3 linked regions of the Homo sapiens genome follow. The protein of the gene in region 2 purifies or fractionates together with the protein of the main gene of each other region. This does not show direct contact. Each region holds a gene or a part of one and is shown on either strand. Other genes may lie near its edges.

Region 1 (3,500 bases), on a different chromosome or scaffold from region 2:
TTAAAGATAGTATTACCCAATTTAAAATTTGCTCTAATTTGTGATTTCTTTGCTCTACATAGCTCCAGGAACCGAAGTTTATGAATCTTTTGAAAACTGAAAGCACACTACTCATGCAAAACCATCACCTGTAGATCAGATATATAAAAATAGATTCTACTATTCTTTGTTATCTTGTTAAAATTAGAATAATTCTTCAAAGCAGCAGATACATGTTCAACAGGAAAACCATTGTCTTGTATGCAAGGGAACAATGTGCGTTTTCTTTTTATATTCAATAAAATGTCTATTATTAGCTTCTATTCAGGCTCGGTCTACTTCAAGTATCTTTCTGTAAAGTAAATATCAACCAGATCAAAAAATTATAGCAGAATTCCAATGCCTCTGCATTTATGTTCTAGGAATACTGGCTCAGGCACAGCATTAATATACCAAATCTCTCACTGTCATGTTTTTTTTAAATTTAATCTATTTATTTATTTTGAGACTGGGTTATGAGACTGGGTAATTTTTGTATTTTTGGTAGAGATGGGGTTTCACCATGTTGCCCAGGCTGGGGTCTCAAACTCCTGGGCTCAAGCGATCCACCTGCCACAGCCTTCCAAGTGCTGGGATTAAAGGTGTGAGCCGCCGCACCCGGCTGCTCACCTTTAAACACAGAATTATCACATATTCTATTTCCTTAGACTTATGAAATTAATCACAAAATAACATGACTTTAATAAACACATATCATCAGCATTCTATTCTTCAAGATGCTACTCAATGGCAAAAACAAATCTACTCTCTCCTTTTACTACAAACTCCATAATTAAGTGCAAGAAAGGAGCACTTCAAAAAGCTGAGACAGTCACATTTTACTAATAAAACTAAAGTTGGGATTCTTCTTGTTTACTCAGCAAAATCAGAGTACCCACTTGCTGAAGAGAGAAACATACATGCTAGTGATAATGGGTGAATTTCTTATTTTATTATTGGTCACAATTGTGCAAAAGGCGGCAGTCAAATTTGAGATGGGGTACACCACAGAGAATTATGAAGCAAATATAGAACACAGAATTTAGATTTATGTGACAAGATTTTCCCTATTCAGTGGTTTCAAATGCTCCGTAGAATTCTGGTCATTTGCTATAAGCAGCCTTTCATAATTAACAAGAATAGCCAAATAAAACTGAATTAGAATGATGAGTAATGGGTGTTCATGATATTATTTTCTCTAATCTTCAAGTAAGTTTGAAACTTTTCATAACAAAACTGTTTCATAATATAAAAAAAAAAAAAAACCACTAAACCAAAGTGATAAAATTGCATGGTCTCAATGTTTTGGGATTCAAAGATGAAAAACAGCTTTAGAATAACCCACACATTTGGGTTACTTCATTTAAAAAAGTTTTCATGAAACAATGACTGTATCTTTCTAAATCAATGTTCTGCTAAAATGACAGGCACTCACTTTGGTTTCTTTCTCTTGTTTAAAAAATGTACTTTTTGTTTCAGTGAACCACTTTGGTTTCTTAACAGCTGTCATGTTTACCTTGACTAAGAGGGATCTTCTAGGCACAATACTACTGTATTGTATTGCACAGGACAGCAATACATGGATGTTCTAACTCAAATAACCCTTCCTCTAAAGTTTAAAAAGAGACTGTATAGCTGTCATCATTGAATAAACATTGTATATCAAAATGGTTTTCAAAGAAAATCAAAACTAGAGCTTTAGAAATTACAATTCTGTCTAATTTTTAATGACAGCTCAAAAAAATGTCAGAGGAAATCATTCTTTTTCCAAAGTAGTAGCATGGTGCTGTGCATCAGATGATTAGTTCTTGTACAATGCCTGACCATACCAACATATCTGACCTTCACCAAGTTGTATAGTATAGTCACAAGTAACGTGAATTCAAGTCTTATTCATGCCACTTACTGGCTAACGGCCTCTGACAATTATCTGCGATAAATATCCGTATTTTTTTTTTTTATTTCATTTTTTTGAAACAAGGTCTCGTTCTGTTGCCCAGGCTGGAGTGCAGTGGTGGAATCATGGCTCACTGCAGCCTCAACTGCCTGGGCTCAAGTGATTCTCCCACCTCAGCCTTTGGAGAAGTGGGACTACAGACATGCACCACCATGCACGGCTAATTTTAAAACTATTTGTAGAGACAAGTCATGCTATGTTGTCCAGGCTGGTCTCTAACTTCTGGGCTCAAGTGATCCTCCTGCCTCAGCCTCCACACAGTGCTGGGATTACAGGTGTGAATCACCATGCTCAGCCTCAAAATTAAAATTAACAGCAAAATTAAAATTAAAATTTCTACCTCATAGGTCCTTGGGGTGATCAAATGTAACTGTAAGTCAAAGTACTTTCAAACAGTAAAGTAGTAAGAATGTACAACAGGAGATCCTCCTCTGCCATCCTCCACTGACACCCGCTGTGCTCCTTCCCCCTGTGAAGCACTGATATCAAAAGGAATATTATAGCCCTCAGAAAGATGGTGAAGAACCACTGCTATAAAACAATATCAAATGAGGGAGGGGATGCTTCCTCATTTGTAAAGGGAAGAAACTAGAAAATGAATAAAGTATCTCTTTCCGTACTAGTTTATGATTCTATAAATTACTTGCAAATGTTTATCTTAAACAAATACTATCGAGTTTTACACATACACACAAAAATATCATTTATTTTTACTGTCAGGTAAATTTTCAATAAAAATTGACTAAGGTCTTTTAGGTAAATATCAAATAACAAAACAGTGGTTAATTGGGCTTTAGAGTAGCAGATATCTGTGCATGTCATATGTTAGAGTTCATATTCCAGGGCAGGCTTATCTTCAAAACATACACAGTTACATTTAAAAGGCCAAAGGAACAACTTAATTATCTGTCAAATATCTGACTGATGTGGGATTATTTTAACTCAGACCAATAAACATAGAAAAATCCTAAAACTTAACAGCTAAAAATGAGAAGTCAAGTACATTAGTTAAATCAATAATTAGTATGAAGACAGGATTAGAAACAGTTACTAACACATCAGTAGCTTAAAAAAGATTATGTGTATATCCAATAATGGTTATATTTAAATAAAAATTCATTTAAAGGTCAAGAAGACCACACAGTCAACTTCTTACAGAAATGCTGAGATAAAAGTTCTCCTTCTTAAGTTTTTCCTTTACATCTAAAAGATGAACATCTGCTTGAGAAGGATCATTTTGGTTTAACTTGTGAATCATTCACACTACTAATCTATGGCTTCAGAGAGTTACCATGACGTATTCAAAATAAGCCATTCAAGAAGAACACAAGAATTAATGAAGCAAGTCATTTGGAATAATTAGAAATTCAAGAACAGGATTTAATAACTTTTTATAAATAGTTATAGGCTGGGTGTGGTGGCTCACACCTGTAATCCCAGCATTTTGGGAGGCCGAGGTGGTCAGATCACGAGGTCAGGAGTTTGAGACCAGCCTGGCCAACGTAGTGAAACCCCATCTCTACTA
Region 2 (5,212 bases):
GAAGAGTCAAGGAGAGCACAGCTCTGGAGCCAGCCTACCCTGGGGTTGAGCTCCAGCCCCATGATTTACTACCGGGGTGTCCTTGTCAAGTTACTTGTTCTTTTTGTGCTTCAGTTTCCTTATTTGAAAATGGGAAGGGTAATATCCACTTCGTATTTTTTTTTCTTTTTCTTCAGGACTTAAATGAATTCATACCTATGTAATACTGAGAACAGTGCTTGGCTCATAGTAAGTCGTATATGAGTTTTAGCAATGAAAGCAAACAATATCAATAACAAAACAAAAATGCAAAACAATGACAACAAAACCCACATGGAAATCAAACCTCTACAAAACTGATGAAGGCAGTGGCTGTAAAAGTGGGGAGAGAAGTCAAAATGGAGAGGGGATGTGCTCCTTCAGTGTTGTGCTAAATAACTGGGGATGCTCTGAAACACCCCTAATTATACTGGGGTTGGAAACCCCATTTGAACTGAAGCACTGAGGTGCAAGTTTACTCTTGCATGTGGTCACACACAGAGTAAGAGACTGAAGCAGAAAGCACATCTTCTCTCCTCATTCACCTGTGAGGTGGGTTAACTGTTTTCAAAGAGAGAATAGGGAATAGATTGTGCTGTACAGCAGCTCAGAGTTGGCATTTGAAATGGAGACTAGTAAGTCTGCCATTGAAGCCATGAGTTTTCTGTGTTTTTAAAACATCTTCAATCCATGTGGACAGCTCATTGAACAGGTGCCTGGTGACTGCCCCACACTGGTGAAAATCTGTGGGTTGGCTTGGCATGCATCTTATTTATCCAGAGGTACACACCCAGAGCACACTTTTGAAGGGTTGTTGGCTCTGTGCACAGGCATGTTGTGTGTGTGTACACAACAGTATGTGTGTATGTGTGGACAGATGCGTATATAATAATTCATATCTTCCCATTTCAAGCACTGAGCTAAATTCAGCCTATACTTTTTTTTTTTTTTCTGAGAAGCCTTTCCTACTTCTGTAAAAAGAAACTCTCATTCCAAAGGAAAGAATGGGAGGCTGAAGTTATTGAAAATGAGATGGGAAATGGGAAGATAGTCACTTTGCAACTCCAAATTCCAGGTCTGATGCTTAGGGTGTTAGTCATTAAGCAAATTCTTCCTGATAACCAATTACAGAGAGGAAAAAAGAGAGTAAGTTTTTTACTGCCCCCTACCTCCTCCTCCCCCGTGCCCCGCTCCTTACCCCCAACCACCAGTGAAGGTGTTTTAGTTCTCCCCAGCCACCTGAGCTAGGGGCAGGAGACCTTCCCTTCCAATAGAGTTCCTTGGTGAAGGTGACTTCTTCATCCACTGGATGCTTTCCCAGGGCAGTTTTGTTGATCCTCCAAGAACATCAAGTCACTGTGTATGAATAGCTCCCACAGAAGTGCCGAGTGTTAAAAGAACCCTTCCTCATGACCTGATGGGATGGGCGGCAGTGTGTCCACACTTGGGCCTGACGTTATACTTGGGGAAAGGGTGGTAGTCTGAGTGTCTCAGAGCAGGGCACTGGCTAGGTGTGAGGTTTCCTACTGCTCTGTAGGCTGCTCATGCTGGAGTCCTGAGCTCCACCAGGAGTCCCTCTGGGCTGCCGAGCAAGTGGATCTTCCAAGGGGCCCATCAGCCTGCTCTGCACAAGAGTTATAGGAATTGTAGAGCCCCAGCACAACAGTCAAGACCAGCATCACTGCAGCCATCATCCAGATCACTTGCCAGTGCTGACACAGTTTGGGATACATGACTTGTAAGAAATGGACCAATTCTTCAAGTTTGCTGTCAATGAAAAAAAATATGCAGAGGCTTTAGTATACTGGGCACACATATGATACACAGACCCACAGTTCTCTCTGCGGATAGCTTCCATGCTGTCTTGAGCAATAGTTCTCAAACTTAGCTGTGCCTAGATTGGGTTGGCAGCAATTGTTCAAAATACCCCAAGCATACTAAATGAGAATATCCAAAGTTATGGTCCAGGAATCATTGGCTAAATTTTCCCAGGTGATTTTGATTCCACCAGTCCACAGCCTTGAAGTTGAGAGCTACTTATCTAGATCATTCTACTTAATTGTTTGATCATCCATCCATACATGCCCTCATCTATTCACGGGGTGATTACTGATATCTGCACTCTCCCAAGCCCGGGGGTACAGGATTGGTTGGCCATGCATCTTTTTAGCACCTAGCTGCATTAATGATCAGTTCCAAGCTCTAACCTGTGCCTTGCCTCAGATGCGTAATTCATTGTTCTCAGTTCCACATCTAACTGTGTCCAGAGTAGAAGGACTGTGCTAAACTCTAAGCAGCTTGATATCCAGTGATAAATGACAAGGGACTAGATCAACCTCAAGAGTTCACTTCAAACCATCCAAGAGCAGGCAGAAGATTAGAAGCCTCTAGCAATGTCTGGGTGGTTTGTTCATGATGTTATCTCAACCTCATTAATATTTATTCTCTAATTTCTCCCTCTTCCTCCTCTTCTTCCTTCACTCTCTCCACACTTCTTTCTCTATCCCTTTCATCTCTCTCTTCCTCTCCATTTTTGCCCCTTTTCCCTCTTGATTCCTTCCCAACTGTCTTTCATTTTGTCCTCTCTCTCTCTCTGTGGTGTGGTAAAAAGACACCGGGCAGATGGCCTGCTTTGACAAGTTCATTCTAGAGCTCTCTGAAGAAGCCCTGAGCCCCTTCATTAAGCCAGGATTTCCTGATGTTTTTAACCTCTAACCCAATTTAAAAAATAATATGAAAAATGAGAATACTGAGGATTCCTGAACCAAGGAGGTGGGGAAAGTGATAGAAGTGCTTTCTGAAGATCCTGAGGCTCATACACACACAGCAATGACCAAGCCATTGGCTGAGAAGCGGAGAGCTCAAATTTTGAGGTAGCAGAAAATGCATGACTAACAAAGGATTGACAGACTCAATAAATGCCCTCCTTAGAAAGGGACCAGATGCTCAGAATGCCTGCCTTGGATGCTAGGGCCACAGAGAACATTGACAGGTTTCCGTTCCATGCGGGAACCCCATCAGATCATTTCAGTCACAATTAAGGAAAGCACGAAAGTGAACACATTCGCTGATTTGAAAATCATTGACTATTTTCACAACTGTTGGGAAGGCAGGGTTTAGAAGTAGAAGGTTATTTTCTCTCAGCCCTTTGTAGATTCTCTAGATTCTATTTAGACAGAGTTGGATGCTAAAATGGAGCCTTTGGGGCTGTATTTCCATCCTCCAAAACAAGGTGCCAGAGTGGCTTCTCCCTACTCTAACCCCACTCTTAAGTGTGGCTCTGGAGGAAGAGACCAAGATCTGTCTGTGTGACCTTAGCTGGTCACCCATGCCTGGCCTATAAAAGAGTTTAGAAATAGATTAGAAATAGAATTTCTTTAGAAGTCAATTTTTGGTTATAATAAGTAAACTTCTGTTTCCTGAGAGTTATTGGAAAAGTAAAGGAACCTAAATGTCCTCTTAACCCCATAGAACTGGTTTGAACAGCCGTTAGGAGAAAAGACAAAAGTTTTATCTTGTCCCTTATGAGTCTCACTTGTTCAATGTCAGAAGACTGTGCTTTCTGTTTTAATATGGTTAAAATATTGGGGTTTACCCAAAGTTTATTTAAACTGATCCTCAAGAGAGCAATATTTGTAACATAATTGTTATATATAACAGATACGTGACTCAGACAAAAATACTTTAATGTGTGATGTTGAATCTCTTAAGCGATCAGCAGCTGGGCTGAACCCAGTGTTTTAAAAATGCAATAAGTAGGACATGGAACTCTTAATAACCTCAAACCTTGCTTGTTAGTGAGGCACCAACATTTCAGGGAAGAAATCATGTTTGAGAGCAGGTGCATGATAAATGTTACAGGCACCATTGCCACTCACTGATGACCAGGAGCTGGACAGAAAGGAACCAAGCTAAGCCTTACTTCCCCTGGGGTTTCATGAAATGGGAGGGAGCTGACAATTGCCTGAGATTGAATTAGCTAGATAAGACATTGAGCCCCTTGCTTTGCAAACCAGACTGTTTATATTCCATGTACTCTCTCTCTGTTTATTTCTCTTTTGTTCTTTCTCAGTGTTTGGAAGTGTTAGAAGTTCCAGTCTGTCTCTGCTGTATTCACGGGTGCCAGAGGAAAGGCTTTTTGTCTAGGGCTTTGCTTGACTGCATTAAAGGGGAGGAAGGCAATGTGGTGGACTGAGAAATATCAGCAGAGAACCCTCAGGAGGGAGATGAGGCCTAAGGAGAACAGGATCTGGTTGCTTGGAGTAGGGATTGCACTTTAATTGTTAAACTTGGAGGTTCTTTCACTGGGGAGACAGTGTGTGATTTGTTTTCAGTGGAGAAGCATTTCTCCAGTTCTCCTAACGGCTCTTCCCCTGAACAATGGGGTCGACCAGCATGGGCTGAGACCTCTGACTTTAGTTGAATTCTCCACCAACTGGGCTCTATTGATAGCTCCTGTGTGCCTATCCATTTTGCTTCTAATCTTCACTTCATTACCTATTTGTTGCATGCATGTGGTTTCCAGAGTTTTCCAGCAATGAGGCACAGATACATACCCAGATTAGATAATATTTCAGCAGCTGATTAGATATTTTGTCTGGAGCTGCCCTGGACCCCAAGATATCCCAGGGGTCTAAAAATAGATTTTGGTGAAGGTTTTCCAAGGTGGCTATTACTACATTTTAAAAAATCAAAATTCAAGACTTGTGGTTTAACTATACTAATAGAGACAACATAGCTGAATATATGAAATTGGGCTGTCCTGAAAATCCAGAATGTTGGCATGGTTATTATATCTGTGGGGTAGAGTAACACCTCATCTATGGGTGCTAGTTTATCCTATCCCTAAGCGTGAACTTCTAGGGGATAATTCAGGCCAGGTGGGGCTGAGACCTCATTCCTATAATACTTCATTGCATGGAGTGCCCTGGAACTAAATTAGGTCATTTCTACGATTCTGCATCCTAAAGGCCAGGCAGGAACCACAAGTGGGACAAGATACAGGTCTATATTCTCTTTATCTACATGTTATATTCTCCTTCCCCAACTTAGGGGAAAGTACCTTTGAAATAGGAAGTATTTTAAAAGAAAACCCCAAGTATTTCCAACCTAAAGTGAAGACCAAGCTTGATTGGTCAGCATGGTAGGCACCTGCTGGAGACTCACCTTTGCCACTGAGCTGAGTTTGCCCTCT
Region 3 (3,500 bases), on a different chromosome or scaffold from region 2:
CTTGGTGGTGATTAAGGGAGCTGTGCTTCCTGCTTCCTTGGAAGTTAAGAGTCAAAGAAGGAATGATTTGTAAGTGCTGTAAGTAATCAGTCCAGCAGCTTCAGCGTCACCAGGAAGTTTGTCAGAAATGCAGAATCTCAGACCCCGTGCCCGTCCTACTGAATGAGAATCTGCATTTTATTAAGATCCCCAGGGGACTGGTGCATTAAAGTGTGAGGAGCGTTGCTCTGAGTGATTTTCTCTCTGCCCCATCCTCCTCAGAATCCTTCTGCCTCCTTTCTGAACTCTGGTCCCCTCTGCTTTTCCCGAGGCTGTTGGTGCCCATGTCTGTGAACCCATAGGCTGATTTGACTGAATTCCTGGGCTAACCCAGTGCCCAGTGTGTGGGCCCCAGGAGGTACCCAGTAAGGGCTGGATAAAAATGAATGTGTTGAAGGCAGGGGTGGCCTTGGTGGGCAGATGGGCCAGGTCACCTGGGAGATGGGAAGGGGGCATTAGTTGGGGAGGGAGGCAGAGGCAGCATTCAGATTCTGGCCAGAGCTCTTCAGTGCAAAGTGGACGAGGCCAATTAGAGCCTCCTGGAGAATTAGAGGTCCTAGTGAAGATTGTACATTAACTCTAGGTGGGAAGGATGGGAGGGATCTGGGTAGTGGATCCAGGAGCGGTTGAGACTGCCAGCCGGCCAGCAAGGGAAAGCAGGCCCACGCCTGTTCTTGGCAGGAGAGCAAGGCCAATGCCACTGCTTTATCCCTTACCCTAGGTGGGAGCAGCAGAGGCCAGGGATGGAGTAGCTGATTAGGGCCAACAAAAAGTGGAGGATTGAATGTGGCCTCAGGCCAGTGGCTAGGGAGAACTGGCCTTGGGTACACAGGGTGGACCCATCAGGATCTCAAGTCATCTCTTGAAGATCTCTTTTTTTTTTTTTGAGACAGAGTTTCACTCTTGTTGCCCAGGCTGGAGTACAATGGGGCGATCTTAGTTCACTGCAACCTCAGCCTCCTGGGTTCAAGCGATTCTTCTGCCTCAGCCTCCCGAGTAGCTGGGATTACAGGCATGTGCCTCCACACCCAGCTAATTTTGTATTTTTAGTAGAGACTGGGTTTCTCCATGTTGGTCAGGCTGGTCTCAAACTCCCGACCTCAGATGATCCGCCTGCCTCGGCCTCCCAAAGTGTTGGGATTACAGCCGCGAGCCACTGTGCCTGGCGAAGATCTCTTATGAGTACCCAGAGAGGTAGCCCCAGACCCACAGAAAGTAAACTGGGGGAGTGCAGGTGAACTGGGTCTTGGAGCTGAGCTTTCAACATTTGTCAAAGTGCCTCTGCCCACCCATGGCTCAGCCTTGGAGCCTATTTGGAGCTCTCAGGGCCTCTGGACCTGGATCACCCAGGGCTGGGTAATCATAGTGAGTAGGAGATGCTGCCTCTTACCCATGGGATTCTCTGTCTACCTGCCAGCCTGACCTGCTTCCCTGGAGGTCAGGACCCAAGAAGTATGGGGGTGAATATAGACGAAGCCCCAGGTCTCCAGGCTCAGGATCCCTAGGTCGGAAACCTCAGAGGCATAGCTCTCAGGAAGGGTGTCTGTCTCATGTTCCATCACCAACTTGTTGGGTGGTTTCTGTTTTGTTTTGTTTGAAATGGGGTCTTTGTCACCCAGGCTGGAATGCAGTAGTGTGATCTGGGTTCACTGCAGCCTTAATCTCCCAGGCTCAAGCAATCCTTACAACTCAGCCGCCCGAGTAGCTGGGACTACAGGCGTGTGCTACCGCATCTGGCTAGTTTTTGTATTTTTTATAGAGATGGGGTCTCCCCTTGCTGCCCAAGCTAATCTAAAACTCCTGGGCTCAAGTGATCCTCCCTCCTCTGCCTCCCAAAGTGCTGGGATTACAGGCATGAGCCGCCGTGCCTGGCCGTTGCTGGATGCTTTGAACAAGGCCCTGCCTTCTCAGAGTGAGTTTCCGTCAGCCTGCATTATCCTCTATGGTGCTCTGGCTGTACCTGAGAATCACCTGGGGATTAAAAAAAAAATTTCAGCTCCCAAGTCCCATGCCAGACCAACTGAATCACCATCTCTAGGGCTAAGGTCTGGGTGTTAGATTTTTAAAAAGTTCTCCAGGTGGTTTTAATGAGTACCTGGGGCCGGGATCCCTGATCTGGGGGCCCTCCCAGGCTGACAGGCTGTGAGGAAGCCTGCCTGCTAGGTCTACCTGCCCCTCAGCCCAGAAGGCCCATCTCTTTGCCCTCATCAGACTTCATAATGTCATTCAACAAACATTTATTAGGCATCTACCATGTGCTAGGCAAGGCACTGTTTTAGGCACTGCAGAATCAGTGGTACCCAAGGCACAGGTCCAGCTTGTTCCGTTCTGTGCAGTGGGGCCCTTTGAGCCTTAAGTCTGAGACACATGTAATTCCAGGAGCAGGGGACTGCCTTTCCCTCGCTGATAGCATTCCCTGGGTGGATTTCAGACCTGTCTTGGCTTTCTTTCTTTTATTTTTTTGGAGAGAGTTTTGCTCTTGTTTTCCAGGCTGGAGTACAATGGCACAATCTCAGCTCACCACAACCTTCGCCTCCCAGGTTCAAGCGATTCTCCTGCCTCAGCCTCCCGAGTAGCTGGGATTACAGGCATGTGCCACCACGCCCGGCTAATTTTTTTGTATTTTTAGTAGAGATGGGGTTTCTCCATGTTGGTCAAGCTGGTCTTGAACTGCTGACCTCAGGTGATCTGCCTGCCTCGGCTTCCCAAAGTGCTGGGATTACAGGCATGAGCCACTGTACCCGGCTTGGCTTTCATTTAATTGTGATTTCATTGGAAGAAGATGTTAGACTTCTGTTCTGTACCTCAAGGCAGATTCTTGGTCTTAGCCTAATCCATGCAACTCATTTTTTGAAAATATATATATTTTTTCAGATTAAAAAAAAATATACATTCCATGGAGAAAATGTGAAAAACTCAAAAAAATGATCTGTAATACCACTATGGCTTACATGAACATTCCCTATGACCTTCTAGCCTTTTATATTCATAAATGAACATTTACAAACAATATCAAACTGCACGTATGGCTTTGTACCCTGTCCTTTTTTGCATATATATAGTGAGCTGTATTTTCCCATGCCAACACACCATTGTTATGGCTGCACAGCCATGGTATGCTGTACCTTAATTTATTTAAGCAACTCTAGTATTCAACATTCAGGCTCTTTGTAAATTTTTGCTGTTAAGAACAATTTGCCCTGAACATCCTAGTGCATGCATGCCTGAACACTTGTCTAGTTATAGTTATCCTCTCAGGTAATACGTTCCCAGAAATGGAGATCAAAGACAAGGTACACCTTTAACTCTTAGGCTGTCTAACTTTTTGTGTTTCTGTGGTGGTGGAGGGGTATAGGAACAGAACTTGGTGCCACAGAGGGTCAGACATGATTCATGTCATGTGTGAGTGTTGCACTAGCATGTGGGGAGTAAGACCAGCCTCTGCCCTCAAGGTTAGGTAC

The links. Proteins that work in one complex are often made in the same cells at the same time.
Region 1: the proteins of IRAG1 (region 2) and ITPRID2 purify together in Homo sapiens (affinity purification with mass spectrometry; one large-scale study listed by BioGRID and IntAct). This does not show direct contact.
Region 3: the proteins of IRAG1 (region 2) and ITPR3 purify together in Homo sapiens (affinity purification with mass spectrometry; one large-scale study listed by BioGRID and IntAct). This does not show direct contact.

What each region holds. Positions count from the first base shown.
Region 1 is NC_000002.12:181,905,230-181,908,729, reverse strand, and holds part of ITPRID2 (protein ITPRID2), read right to left. Parts: intron 1-3,500.
Region 2 is NC_000011.10:10,574,791-10,580,002, forward strand, and holds part of IRAG1 (inositol 1,4,5-triphosphate receptor associated 1), read right to left. Parts: intron 1,786-5,212; coding exon 1,542-1,785; 3' UTR 1-1,541.
Region 3 is NC_000006.12:33,624,322-33,627,821, forward strand, and holds part of ITPR3 (inositol 1,4,5-trisphosphate-gated calcium channel ITPR3), read left to right. Parts: exon of another isoform or gene 1-69; intron 70-3,500.